2 linked regions of the Homo sapiens genome follow. The protein of the gene in region 1 purifies or fractionates together with the protein of each later gene. This does not show direct contact. Each region holds a gene or a part of one and is shown on either strand. Other genes may lie near its edges.

Region 1 (4,680 bases):
GGGCAGAGCAGGAGGCTTTGGACAGGAGATGAGGTGGGGAGCTATTCTTAGTCCCAAATAAAAAAGTTATCACTTTCCAGAAATATTATGATCTGCCACTTAACCTAGCAAATTCATACTTAAAGAGAAAACCTGAATCTGCCTTCTGAAAAGTGCTGATTCCTTGCAAAAATTATCTGACTTTCATGCCAGATTCAGGCACAGACTTCTTTTATTCTGCTGGATTTGTCATGATCTATCCTGGAGTTCTATCTAAGACCTCATCAACCACCAAATCATGTTCCTATTGTTGACAGATTCTCAGTTTTTGCATTGTTATATAAGTTACTCATGTATGCTTTAGTTGATTAAAAACATGATTAAAATTATAAATGCTATGAAACATCACCTAAAAATGTATTTTTTTTAAAAAAACGCTGTCACTCAAATCAGTCGTTAACTGCACTGAATTTGAAATTGAAATGTCCTGAATTCAGTTCTGTATACTTCATGTAATAATTGTATACATGAAATTGTATCAGAGAATGGTTCCTAAAGTCCTAAAGAGCCCTTCTGCATGTTTTATTTTTCTAAGAAATTTGTTATATGGCTGATTCCTATTACATTTCACCAGCTTTTATTTCGTTTTGTCTGTTTGATGATAGTGAAACTATAAATATAAATACCTATTCACAGGCTATTCTCTTCTTCTAGATGAAAGATCATTACACTGGGAAAGCTGCCCATAGAAAACCATAATTGAAGGCATTGCATGTGGATCCCACCAACAGGGCCACACTCACCTCGGAAGCGGTTGAGCCTGTACACCAGTCCAGTGATGGGTCCTGCAGTGAGCTCTGGATTCACAGGCTGGGGCATGTGCAGCAGCACGGACTCACTCCTGCAAGGAAGTAGGTTGAGTTGGTTAACTTTCTGATGTCTGTGTTTAAGAAACAGATTCCAACAGAAAATGCTTCATTCAAACCCACTTCTGATACCGTAATGTACCTCCACAACGCTAGGATGGGTTTGTGGCTCTTAGGGAATCTTTCTAACTATTCACTCCATTTCTAACCTACTGCCCCTGAAAGATAAATGCCTCTCTCCCTATCTGCCACCAAATAGTTTATCTCTAATTATGATTCTGAATCGCAAAAAGAGGCAACTGTATTCTAGCAACCTCTGCATTGCACTCTTCAAAACATAAACCCCTGAGTCACTTGGGAAAGTAAGAAAAGATTAATGTCTGATAAAAGGCATAGATGACATTCATCATACCACATAAACACATGACTACACACACATACACACACAATCACACTGACACATTATGGTGTTAGTAAATTATGTTTTCACTTTGTTGGAAACAGCTTGATGTTTTTCATAGCATGCCTTGTGCTCCAGTTTGCACTGACGGCCAAAAACATACCTTGCCACGATGTCTCCCAAATCCTGTAGAGAGAGAGAGAAAAAAAAAATGACTTCTTTAGAAAGTTGTTATTCTTGTTGGGTGAGGTGGTTCACACCTGTAATCCCAGCACTTTGGGAGGCCAAGGTGGGTGGAACACCTGAGGTCAGGAGTTCCAGACTAGCCTGGACAACATGGCAAATCCCCGTCTCTACTAAAAATACACACACACACACAAATAGTGGGGTGTGGTGGTTCATGCCTTTAGTCCCAGCTACTAGGGAGGCTGAGGCAGGAGAATTGCTTGAACCAAGGAGGCAGAAGTTGCAGTGAGCTGAGATTGGGCCATTGGACTTCAGTCTGGGTGACAGAAGAAGACTCTGTCTCAAAATAAACACACAAAAAAGTTGCTATTCTGCCTATCTGGTCTTTAGGTTTTCAAAACTTTAGAATTACCGTATACTATTACTGCCACTCTTTTAAAATGTATTCTCATCTCTAACAATTATACCAGTAAGACCTATTGACAATATGGATTTCTGATAAATTAAGGACCCTAAATTTGAGTGAGAGAGAAAGGTGTGAGTAGTGACTGCGCATTGCTGCAGCTGTCTACAATGTGGTCTTTTTCAGGGCTAGTCCCCAAAGTGTAATGTGGCTCAAATCAAGCATGAAATTTTTTCTTCCAGAGTTTTAATGAAATGTGCTGGAGGAGGAAGCTTGTGGTAGAAAATGTTGTATGGAAATCTAGTTGCACAATTCCATAAAGCTTTATTTCCATGATTAGCGTAGGAGTTATAGTTTATCTCTATAACCGGTGGGAATGACTCTCACCGTCAGTACAGGAGATGAGGAAATAATGTCTTTGGTACCCAATGGAAGGCAAAGATGTAAAGGTCAGCTAACACAAAGTGTCTCAAGGGGCATCCTCCATTCTTACCTGGAGCAGCTCCACATCTGGTTTATGACACATTTCCATTAGTTCCTGATACATTTCTTTCAAGTGTTTACTCTTTTGATCCATTTTGACCCAACTTCTCTGGAGTTGCTGAAAAATCTCTTGGTATTCCTTGTTCAGTCTCTCTAAATGTTGTTTTTCTTCCTTATGGAGAACCGGATGCAGCTTCCTATACTCATTCCTGATCATCTGTGCCCGTAAAACCACATTGCCCTGTAGGGATATGAATTTTGTAGGTTATATACCCAGGCCTACTTCCACCTCACAGAGCCTACAACTTCATCCTCCTCATTCCTTCTTTTATTTTCCATCCTTTACAAACAGGATGATGAGTTAAGCAAGACCTTCCTTCAAAATTTATGTAATTCATCAATTCCCAAACACCTGCAAAAAAGCCCTTTAGGTTTAAATGTTTAAATCAAATCGGAAATACAATTAGAAAACAACTAAAATTTATGATTGTTACATTGTCATGGATAATACACATAATCTTTGTTATTCACTTAGGTTGTTGTTTCAAATCTCTGTACTTCACAGCCTGAACAATCACTCTTAGTAGAAATGTTTTTAGTATATTATAATCAGGATCAGAAGCCATCACACAAAAAGGATCTTAGTAAAAAATTTAACCCCCATCTCTCAAACTGACTACCTCTTTTCTGTCTCCTATCTTTCTTCTGTCAAATCCATAGACTCTGTATTGCACTGCCATTCTAAGAACATTAATCCCCATTCCATTGTGTTTCTCCTCTCAATAATGACATATTTATCCTCTCACTGCCCCAGTCATTTTTTATCCCTTCTCCTCAGCTTTTCCTCATGTTGCATTTTCTCCTACTCGGACTGGCATCATGTGGGTCCTTTGCTATCAGATTTCACCAGCACAGGCACATTTCTTAAATTACTGTTCCCACCCGATTTCTTCCCCCTGGACAATATCATATTCACCAATAAATGCCTTTATTTCTCAATTATATACTATTTAATCAACATTTCATAATTAATTTTATACAGAAAACTCTGTCTGAAATACTTATTAATTTTAAGCACATACTTGCCCTTCAGAATTTATATTTATTTTTTACTTATCTGAAAAGCATTTACAGAAAACCTGAACAATCGTTATGTTGAACAGTCTGGTTGTTTTCCAGCCTATGAATAAACACATGACAAAATCTGGCATAAGAATTTCAACTCAAGTTGCTAATATAAATGTTGTCAGCATGCCTGTCTCAAGCTGGTCAGGAGGACTCACGGTCTCATACTTACCCTCCAGAGGAAGGCTGTTCTTCCCTCCTCATATAGATTTCTCTGATTTTCTTGAATCTTTTTCCATAAAATCCTCATTTGCTTTAAGAGTTTCTCCTGCAAAAGAATTACAAGGTTGAACAACAGAAAGTCAAATGCCAAAGATTCCACAATCTGAGTGGTATACACAGGCAAGGGATAATATATAAATACATTAGTGAGAGGAGAAAAAAACAAAATTTTTCATTGCTCATCCTTAATTGATATTTTTCAGTTTGAGGTTTCAGAATGTAGAACAGCTTAGGGAACTGAAGAGTGAAGATTTCCTGTAACCCAGCTAAATTAGTTCAGGGAAACATCCTGCTTCAGAACCCACTATGCTAGCCCCTGATTTTGTAGTGTGCTACTCCCATACTCATTTGTCCAGTAATATTAAATATATTTCCAAAATACCTTTCTTTGCACTGGTAGTTTTGGTAGCTTTTCAATGTCATTAGCATTGAACTGTAGAGTCAATAATAATGACATTTACTTAATCAGTCTCTTTTTGGGTGCAAGCTCCATGAAGGAAGGTAGAGTTGCACATTTTATTCAAAATGTCATCATTGGTACCTAGAACAGCACCTGGCACTCAGTAAAGAATGGAGTAATCACCATGATTCTCATCATCCTTCTAATATCTTTAACTCTGCCACCCTCCAGCTTTCAGGTGATCACAGAGCTATCTCTTACCCGGTGTTCCTCAGCTGCCTCTTCGATGGGATGGTGTTTGTGAGCCCCGTGCTCCTGAGAGTTGGAGCACAGCAAGCAGAGGAGACTCTTGTCCATGTCACAGAACATCTTCTTTGTTTGCCTATGGGTCCCACATATTTGTTTCTCAGAGCTCAGGAATTGCCAGAGACTGGCTTTTCTGGCAATGGTCACTAAATTCTTCAGAAGAATATTGGTTTTGAAGTCCATTTTCGGTGATGGTTCCCTGCATGCAGGGCAGTTTGCAGGACTTTGGGCTTCCTCCCACGAAAGGCAGAGACAGGGCCTACAGAAGCTGTGCCCACAGCAGATGGTGACAGGGTCTACCAGGTAGTTC
Region 2 (4,462 bases), on another chromosome or scaffold:
TCTGAAGGGAAATGGAGTCCTTGGCAGGTGGGGCTGTGCGGTCGCCCTTTCCAGCACCATGGGTGGGTGGAACTGTGCCTTTTTGTCCTACCGGTTTCAGTCAATCTTTATCAAGTTTTGCTTTCCGAAATTTGTGTTCTGACTTAAAATTAGCAAGGAGGGGCTTGAGGTGGGGAAGAGACAGTCATTTGACTTCTTGGAGGCTCTTGCTTGGGCCTGAAAATGAAAAATGGATTAGAACTCATCGGCCACTGCAGATGCTGCTTGGACTGAAAAGGCTGCTTTCCACAATGCTCCTGCCTCCATTTAGCAGCCCTACTAGAGGACGCAGTGTTAGTGATGCAGCGATGACCAGAGTAGAGGATCTGTTTCCTTTGTGAACTTTTTTTCTCTGGGAGGAAAAGTGGCCTCGCAGGTAGGAACCAGGGCCTGCTACTTTGCACGGGGGCTTCGGGCCACTTCTGCTCTTCTTGGCTGGGTTGGAACTGAGAGGCCTGGGGATGGGGTGAGGTGAACAGAATGCACAGGAAGACTCCAACTAGGAGGGCCGAGGGAGACCCAGGCCACGAGGACAGGAAACCTACTACCACATGGCACCATGCCCCTTCAGGGAACTGATGAGGCCAAGGTCATTTCTGCATTAGCACCTCAGACCTGCCGCACAGGGCCCTTGGCATGCGGCGGACACACGTTCTCGGTCCCCCACACCTAGGCCAAGTTCTCATCATGGATGGATGTCGTGATACTAGGGCAGCACAAATGTTAAATCCCAAAGAACAGATAAAATTTTTACATGAACAGAAACCAACATTTTCTTGTTCACTTTTTAAAGAAGTAATTTAGAAAGAATTCCTTAAAAACGCCACAAATCATGTCATTCTACTCTTCACACCATACCAGCACAGTGCAACTGTCCACACCCCTCCAGACCGGCGGGCTGGGCTCAGGAGCCCCTGGCATACACCTGGGCCTCTGTTCTCCCAGCCGGGACCAGGCATGACATCCCCGCTGCCCCTTCTCTGAGAATCCATTTCATTGCCTTCTGCAGTGACAGAGCATGAGACAGAGGTTGTGTGTCTCTCTGATGCAAACCTGGTTATGAACTGATGGATCTCTCTTTGCACCTGATGTCCCCAAGGCATGGCCACATGCAGAACACGGCCAGCCTTGCGCTTCCCATCATGCTCTCCCATGCAGACACTTCCAAACCACAACGGCCCTCACAAAAGGATCATTTACCTACTAACGGCATCTTTTCAGTCTTTTTAGTCACAGGAAGAATAATGAAGTTACTGCTTAAAAGGACTTTTCTATCTTCAAGAAAAAAATACACTTAAGTTTCACTATGAATGAATTTCAGTACTAATATTTTTTTCTCCCTAAATAATTAAGTCCCACATGTACATGGGGTTTTGGCTTCTCTTGATCTGCAACTGAATTGTTCCCTTTGTAGAGAAATTGTCTTGAAGAGTTACATTAATTTTTGCAATTTGTAAAACCATTTGCTGCTGTGTCACCTAAGTCTCAGATAACTAACTGCCTTCAAGACAGATGTAAACATTAAAAATTAAAGACCCCTTAATTTGAAAGAAAGACATTAAGGTGAAGAACAATTGTTCTTTGACTACCTGAACATAAAGCACAGACTTTTTGGAAGCCACGCTCTCTACGAGGCAGGGATGCATCAGGGCAGAATGGCAAAAGCTCCCAATCCTAACGTCCTCCTCTGTAGAAGCGAGGGGGAGAGGGCGCCTCTGTGGCCCTTTCCAGCCAAACCACCCACGATTCAAAGGTGGGCGTTCCTCCATCACAGGGCCGGCCTGGGCTGATGGGGACTTAGGGACTCACCGTGCCAGTTTTCCCAGCTGTCATACTATTCTGCATTTTCATGGCTTCAATCACACAAATTTCTTGACCTTCTGCTACCTGGAAAACAAAAATGGGCAGAAGTTTTAAAAGCATTCTAATTTTGCATTAACACTTAGGAATGAAGCCATTAAGAAATTCTTTGTCAAATGCCCCAAAATATGTGTCTATGAACAGCAGCAACAATCTCTAATGTTTCCTATTCCAAGCTCATCTTTAGGAACAGTAGAGAAAAGCCATTCTCTCTCTCATAAAGTCCTCGTTGGAAAAAAAAAAAATCCCTGACCCTGGAGAAGTGGGGACCCTGGCGGCGGGGCCTACCCTGGGGATCTCTGAGTCTGGCTCTGCCACTAACAGAGGTGTTCGGAAATTGGAATGTTTTCCACTTACCTGAAATGTCCAGAATAGGCAGATCTCTACAGACAGACTCGAGGTTGCCTGGGGTTGAAGAGGGAAGGGGAGTCACTGCTGAAGGGTACAGGGTTTCTTTTGAGAGTGATAAAAATGTTCCAAAATTGATTGTGGTGACAACTACACAACTCTGAATTGACTGAAACCACCGAATCGTACACGTTAAAGGGCTAAATTGTATGTGAATTACATCTCAGTATAGCTGTTACCAAAAAAAAAAAACCACCACCAAATATACATATTTCTGTCTATAGTCCCGGGGAACTGGGAACAGCTCGGCCCTGGCGCCACGAGGACCACTGTCCCATCCTCTGCAAGACACAGCGAGTACCCACAACAAGGCACAAGGCAGCTTCCGGAAAACCCTCCAGACACAGGAATGACTTCCAGAGCTACATGCATTCCATGCTAGGAGACTGGGAGCGCCCACGGGCCTTTGCTCAGACTGCGTTCAGAACTTGCCTTTCATCCTGAGGGGCAGCCAGGCTGAGCTGGGTTAAGCCCACTGGCGTTAAGCGTGAGGCTTCCCTGCAGGAGTGAGCTGCAGCTGAAAACCATGCTGCGCACTCACTTCGCTCTGCCCCGATGGGTCAGCGTCCTGAGCCGGCCAGGTTTTTCTTTGGCCTCCCAGTCTTTGAAACGGGCAAGTCCAGGTTCCTAGGGCAATGGCTATGTGGTGTGGGTGGGTGTCCTGGCATGGGGCTCCTGGCCCCTCACACCACTGTGGCCATATTCGTCCAATGCCTCAGAAGCGCCTAGAGAATGTTCTTTCCTGAAATCCCCAGATGATCTCCAAGTCCCCCTCTGGCCCCCCCGTGTGGCGCAAGCTGTCTTGCTGGCACTCTGGAGCGCCTGAGCCGATGTACTCTTTTCCTCTGCTGTTCAGGTGGTGGGCTGCTTCTTCCTGGCATAGAAATATAGGAAGAGAGACGATGCCAAGGCTTTGGCGCTGGCACGGAGGAGAGACACCGCGCTGAGGAGCTGGGCCTGGAAGCGCTGCCCGCGCTGCCCTTTTTGATTCATTTTCACGTGGCATCTGCATTCCAGGGAGAGCGAAGAATCAGCCTCGAGGGCTGTTTGCAGGGGGATGGGAGGGGCAGCGCAGAGACAATGCAGAGGCCCCCATCAGGGGTGTCAGAACAGTCACTCCCTCCAGTTGGCATTTTACAGCCTTTTTTCTCTCTTCAAAGGCAGGCAAAGACCAGGGAATCCAGGAGCAGGTCCAGTTCACTGCAGCACACCTGCCAGCCAGCTCCACACAGGGGACCCTGGAAGCCTGGCCGTGTCCTCTTAGAAGCTGGACTCACTGCGACTGACTCTGACCTAGGACTGAGCACTCAGGCAACAGGACCGGGGACTCTCTGGGAAGTGGATCTGAGACTCAACAGAACATAGTAGAAATGCCATCCAAAAATGAGGAATCCACTCTCCCGCTCTGGGCACTGTTCTCTCTCCAGGTGGAGGAGCTTCCTGGGGACTGCATGCCGGCCTCCCAAACACCCACCCAGCCCTTCCTCTGCAGGCATCTGAGGGCCCAGGACTGGCCAGAGCCCCGTCCCCCCGCCAAGTACATTGGCTTCACATGGGTGGCACAGCCCCTACCCTCTCTGCCAGTAGGTGTGCCCTTCCACCACACGTCCCCTCCCATCCCCTTGCTCAGAATCTGCGGGCCAGACAGGCAGGCAGCTCCTGCTTCTGTTTTACAGGATCTTCAAGTGAGTGCGTTAGCAACTCAACTGCAAATATGAAGAAATGCGGCCTGGGGATTTCCCAAGGTCACGCTAGGGGCAAAGGCCAGCCTGACCTGGCTACAGCTCTACTCTGGGCCCCGCCAGGGCCTGGGAGCAAGTGGGTGGTGGACAGGAGCTTAAGGGGCTCTGCTGTGGCTGCCACTGACCATCTTTCTGGCTGGCTCTGTGCTTCTAATGTGGGTGATTTGCAAAGAGGTAACGCACAGGTAACTGCAAGTGCTGGGTCCCCAGTTGTTCATCAGAAAAAAACCTCGGATTTAGCCCGAGACAATCAGGAAAAGTGGGGAGGCCTGAAATTCAAATAGTCCTTCTGTCTGATTGTGAGAGTCCGGCAATTCAATTCAAAGGACTTTAAAGAAGGCGTGTCCCCACTGAAGCGATCCCATCTTCTGCCCCATCCAAGCACAGCACTGAATCATAGAATTAGATCCTCC

Evidence for each region. Proteins that work in one complex are often made in the same cells at the same time.
Region 2: the proteins of TRIM43 (region 1) and PCCA purify together in Homo sapiens (affinity purification with mass spectrometry; one large-scale study listed by BioGRID and IntAct). This does not show direct contact.

What each region holds. Positions count from the first base shown.
Region 1 is NC_000002.12:95,594,080-95,598,759, reverse strand, and holds part of TRIM43 (tripartite motif-containing protein 43), read right to left. Parts: coding exon 4,326-4,680; intron 3,711-4,325; coding exon 3,615-3,710; intron 2,559-3,614; coding exon 2,328-2,558; intron 1,432-2,327; coding exon 1,409-1,431; intron 881-1,408; coding exon 783-880; intron 1-782.
Region 2 is NC_000013.11:100,525,139-100,529,600, reverse strand, and holds part of PCCA (propionyl-CoA carboxylase alpha chain, mitochondrial isoform a precursor), read right to left. Parts: intron 1,927-4,462; coding exon 1,849-1,926; intron 1-1,848. UniProt on the Homo sapiens protein: This is one of the 2 subunits of the biotin-dependent propionyl-CoA carboxylase (PCC), a mitochondrial enzyme involved in the catabolism of odd chain fatty acids, branched-chain amino acids isoleucine, threonine, methionine, and valine and other metabolites.